Regions from separate parts of the Homo sapiens genome. Here region 1 is linked to region 2. A link means that fine-mapping ties the variant in region 2 to the expression of a gene that starts in the linked region. Tissue or cell type: blood mononuclear cells. Region 2 holds a variant in brackets; the other region holds the start of a gene. All regions are shown on one strand. Distances are between the middles of the regions.

What was found. PIP is the estimated chance that this variant, and not a neighbour inherited with it, causes the effect.
Region 1: CEP250 starts here. The variant in region 2 is fine-mapped to the expression of CEP250 in blood mononuclear cells (TOPMed, PIP 0.95).

Annotation. Positions count from the first base shown.
Region 1 is chr20:35,454,469-35,457,151 of GRCh38, forward strand. It overlaps CEP250 (centrosomal protein 250), which reads left to right and starts at 1,130. Exons shown (of 35, transcript NM_007186.6): 1 at 1,130-1,283. It also overlaps a transcript of GDF5 not described here. RefSeq lists enhancers at 65-114, 375-524 and a silencer at 545-924.
Region 2 is chr20:35,485,989-35,488,671 of GRCh38, forward strand. All of the region lies in intron 20 of CEP250 (centrosomal protein 250), which reads left to right. All of the region lies in intron 1 of CEP250-AS1 (CEP250 antisense RNA 1), which reads right to left. Among named protein-coding and RNA genes, the nearest start is that of CEP250-AS1, 3.7 kb to the right of the region's middle. The variant C/T (reference allele first, on the strand shown) is at 1,201.

The DNA of each region.
Region 1 (2,683 bases), 32 kb before region 2:
ATTTATACACAAAATGCTACAGGAATAACGCATGGGTCCTATTGGGAAGAAAAAGTTCTCTAGAAGTCAGGCTTAAGCAGAACTGCAGCTCCGGGACGGATTAAGTCAGGTAAAGGTAACACTCTGTGCAGAGACATGCAGACAAAACCGAGTGTTGAGTAAGTAACTCGCCTGTAAGTGTTATGCTGCCTGAAGCTTCTCGGAGCGTCTGAGCAGCAAGGTGAACAACCCTCAGAAACCGGTCGCGCTGCCAGTATTATCGCTAACCAGTGGCAGCGAGCCCCTTTGTTTCTCGGCAGTTGTAATTGTAGTCTGGTTTGTAGGTGGAGCTGTGCGCAGGCGCACCTAGAACCAGGTGACCTTGCACATGCGCTGTATGTAACACTGAAGCCAAAAGCGAAATGATTGAGGGCAATTTTTCTTTTCTGCTTCCGAAATGTCCCTTTCGCGAATCCAGAGACCCTGACCGTCCCCATTTCTGGCTAGGGATCTTATAATTCTTAAAATAATACCCCCTTTCCTTCAGGGCCTCTCTAGTAAGTCGGCTGCCAATACCCAACATGGCGGGAGGCCCTGCGCCGGCTCAGTCTGCCTATAGGTGCAGGACTTGGAGGGGCGGGCCCCTCCCAAAGGGCGGGAGTTTGGGGGGGCGGGGCCTGGCCCTCTGCCTCGGGGTGGGCTCCGCCCCCGTCCCCCGCAGGGCCTTAGCAGCGGCTGCCGCAGCTCAATCGCGGAGCAACTAGCCGGGCGTCTGCGGGAGCCGAGCGTGGTGAGGTGGGGCCTCAGGGGCAGGTGGGAGGTGCTCGGGTTAACCGTCCGAGGCCCGGAGACCCGCCCGTCTAGGGCGCCTGAGGGAATCCCGTTCGGGCAGCGGCCTCTTGTTACCCGGGAGGAACCCGAGGCCCAGAGAGGGGCTGGGACGCGTCGTTAGGGCCCGGGGCCCGCTTGCCTCAGCTTCTTGCTGCCGCCAGCACGCTAAGCTCCAGTCGGCGCCGAAGGAGAGCTTCCCGACCCTCGTGTCCAGTAGCCGCAATCCCAGGCTGGGAGGGTGAGGCGCCGCGCTCTGCCGCCCCCCCGCCCCTCGCTCCCTGTGTCCTGGCGGATTTGCACGTAATCTATCCGAAAGCCCAGTCCCACCCGCCACCCGACTCTGGAGCTCCCATTCTTCAGGACCCTGCTGAAGTATCGCTTCTCAGCCGCCTTCTCCAGGCGCAGCTGCATTCGCTTCTCGGTTTTTGCACTCGCTGTGCACCGAGTTACTTTCCCGGCCCCTCGTTGACACCGTAAGCTCGTTCGTTAGATGTTATGCCTTGCCTTTTTCATCTCTAGATCCCAGGGCCTAGCACGTGATGATAATAGTCATGGCTTACTGTACGGAATGATCACAAATTGTCAGGTGCTACTGAATGCATTACACATAAGGGCCCATTTATTTATTTATTTAGAGACGGAGTTTCGCGCTTGTTGCCCAGGCTGGAGTGCAATGGCGCGATCTCGGCTCACCTCAACCTCCGCCTCCCGGGTTCAAGCGATTCTCCTGCCTCAGCCTCCCAAGTAGCTGGGATTGCAGGCATGCGCCACCACACCCGGCTAATTTTATGTTTTTAGTAGAGACGGGGTTTCTCCATGTTGGTCAGGCTGATCTCGAACTCCCGACCTCAGGTGATCCGCCCGCTTCGGCCTCCCAAAGTGCTGGGATTACAGGCGTGAGCCACCGCGCTCAGCCAAAGGCCTATTTAATCTTCCCAACAATCCTATGGGGTGAGTTCTTTCTATAGCTTCACGTTTTACCCATGAAGAAACTGAGGTATTCATAGAAAAAGTAATTTGCCAGGAGTCCCACAACTAATAAGTGGATGGAGCTGGGAAACTGTCCCCAGGGCATTTGATGACTTGACTAGATTGCCTTTGGGTTTAATCAACGTCTGTTGAATTGATCTTTACTTTGGCCCTGGGAGTTATTGGAGGCTAGGCTTGTGATCAGTATTTTACCGCGAAGGCTTAGAAAGGAGAACTGGTCCCAGATTTATAGAGGTCACAACAAAACCAAGGCTACTGGTACGCCCTCTGTTCCTTTAGTTCTTCTATCTTTCTTTGCTCCTTTTCGATCAGAAAGCTGCAGACATAGGTGTCATTATCGCTCACTATTTAAGAAGTGCCCCTCACAGAGCTGTGAGTTCGTAGTCCATGCTTTAACTAATGTAATGTTCATGCTTTAACAGCTAATGTAATGGAGAGAGTGTAGAATTTGGAATCAGATTGGGGTTCAGTCATTGCTCTGCCACTGACCAAGCTATAAGTTATATGCCTCCCCCCACTTTTTTTTTTTTTTTTGAGACCTGGTCTCAGTCACCCAGGCTGGAGTGCAGTGGTGCGATCTGGGTTCACTGGAACATCCTGTCTCCCAGGTTCAGGCGATTCTCCCGCCTCAGCCTCCTGAGTAGCTGGGATTACAGGCGCCCGCCACCGTGCCTGGCTAATTTTTGTATTTCTAGGAGAGATGGGGTTTTGCCATGTTGGCCAAGCTGGTCTCGAACTCCTGGCCTCAAATGATCTGCCCAACTCAGCCTCCCAAAGTGCTGGGATTACAGTTGTGAGCCACCACACCCAGCCTGTTTTTTTGCTTTTTATATAGGTAATAGAGCTGTTAGCATTTTGCAAGACCATTGGTGATAATATGGAT
Region 2 (2,683 bases):
AAATTCTGAATTACATTTGCATTGGGTGAAAGATAGTGGATTTACTTTTTTTTTTTTTTTTTTGAGACACAGTCTTGCTCTGTTGCACAGGCAGTGGTGCTGTTTCAGCTCCGCCTCCTGGGTTCAAGCAATTCTCGTGCTTCAGCCTCCCAAGTAGCTGGGATTACAGGCGCATGCTACCACACCTGGCTAATTTTTGCATTTTTAGTAGACACTGGGTTTCACCACATCAGCCAGGCTGGTCTCGAACTCCTGACCTCAAGACAAGGTCTTGCTATTGCCCAGGCTGGAGTGCAGTTGTACAACTGCACTGTACAACTCTAGCTCACTGAAGCTTCAAGCTCCTGGGCTTAAGCAATCCTTCTGCCTCAGCCTCCAGACTAGCTAGGACTACAGGCATGCACCATCATGCCTGGCTAATTTTTTTTTTTTTTGGTAGAGATGTGATCTCACTTTGTTGCCTAGGCTGGTCTTGAACTCCTAGCTTCAAGCAATCCTCCTGCCACAGCCTCCCAAACTGCTGGGATTATAGGTATGAACTACCACACCTGGCCTACACCACAAGTCTTGCTTTGCTTTTGGCTTCTGTGGAATTTTTATTATTTTCCTGCTGGTTCTGTGATACATTAAAATACATATTTAATATTTTATCCAGCATTTTTTGCGATTTCGTAGCTGGAGGGTTCAGAGATCTTGTTTATCAAGTATCTGGAAATGGAAGTTGACTTGTGCTTTATGTGTATTTGTAATTTGATTGTTATTATGAGGCAGGCTTATTGGCAAGATGATAACCAGAAGTTTGCTTATTTTTGGAATTCTGTGCCTAGTCTATAGTCGGTGCTTAAAAGTATTTGTTGAATGAACACTGATTCTAGCAGGAATCAGATGTATACCATGTACTGAAAACTCCATAAATAAAAGATGCTATAAAACTTCTGAATGATAAGCCAGCTACCTACGTGGCCTTGGTTTCCCTAAAAGGATTGACTATAGTGGCCATATCTGGGTCATGAAAGGGCCTTTTCTCTCTTTTCCTTTTCTGTCATTCAGCTAATCCTCCTGACTTCTGATTGTCCCACTTTATTATTTCTCTATGATTGAGCAGGTCAACTGCCCTCTTAAAACTCTCGACAGCCTGTTCGTTTTAGCAGTGACTGCCTTCTCCTGGAATCCTGGCAATTAGAAGCACTCTTGGGAGGC[C/T]GCGCGTGGTGGCTCACACCTGTAATCCCAGCACTTTGGGAGGCCGAGGTGGGCGGATTGCCCAAGGTCAGGAGTTTGAGACCAGTCTGGCCAACCTGGTGACACCCCGTCTCTACTAAAAATACAAAAAAATTAGCCAGGCGTGGTGGCATGCACCTGTAATCCCAGCTACTTGGGAGGTTGAGGCAGGGGAATTGCTTGAACCAGGGAGGTGGAGGTTGCAGTGAGCCAAGATCGCACCACTGCACTCCAGCCTGGGCAACAGAGTGAGACTCTGTCTCAAAGAAAAAAAAGAAAAAGAAACACTCTTGGCAGTTGTATTCTTTATTCTTCCATCTACTGTCTGTCTCCCCTTTAAGAGTAATGATATTGGACACTTGTTAAGCACCTCCCCATGCCAAGCACCATGCTGAATGCTTTATTCACACAATAAAGGTGAATAAATGCATGGAGAAGTCACTCAGGGCTGGGCGTGGTGGCTCACACCTGTAATTCCAACAATTTGGGAGGCCAAGGCGAAAGGATCGCTAGAGGCCAGGAGTTCGAGACCAGCCTGGGCAACATAGCAAGATCCCCATCTCTAAATAAATAAAATATAAAAAGAGAAGTCAGGGTTACATGGCTAATAAGGGGTAGAAAAGGGATTCAGGGCCCAAACTCCTAACCATTTCTTTTTTATCCACCTCTGTAATGTCCCTTCCAAATGGTTGCTTAGCTGCTATTGTATTCCATCACTTGGCTGCCCATTTATTTTAGATAGATCTAGTTATTAGGAAATTCATGTTGAACCAAAACCTATTACCAGGAACAAATGAGCCTTAGATTTGCTTGAAATACCCCACCAACATGGTTGCTTTCTTCTAGGCATGTTACAATTTACTCATGTCCCAGTGGTGTAAAGGTGGCACTTTGAACTGGGCAGAATATTCTGTTCATGGTCATACCAGCAATGCTGGACTGTTACTTCCTACACATCACAGAATTAGCTCTTCTTGTAGCTATAACACACTTCTAACTCACATAGAGCAAATAGATCAGTTTTTTTAACACTTGCAACTGCTATTAACATTCATCTTTTTCATATTTTTACAGTTGGCTTTGGCTTTTTGCAGTCACATACTCTGCCACTGAGCTATACCCGCTGTCTTTGGCTTTTTGAACCAGAGGGTAAAATGATTTGTCATTCATGACTGTCCTGTAACTGACATTACACATTGCCGGGTTTTATAAGGAAGAACAAAGGAAGACCTCTTTTTTTTCTTTTTATTATTATTATTTCTTTTGAGACAGGGTCTTGCTCTGTTGCCCAGGCTGGAGTGCAGTGGCGTGATCAGGGCTTAACGGCAGCCTCACCCTCAAGGCCCTCCTGGGCTCAAGTGATCCTCCTACCTCAGCCTCCCAAGTAGCTGGGACCACAGGAGTGAACCACCACACCTGACTAATTTTTGCATTTTTTGTAGATAAGGGGTTTCACCATGTTGCC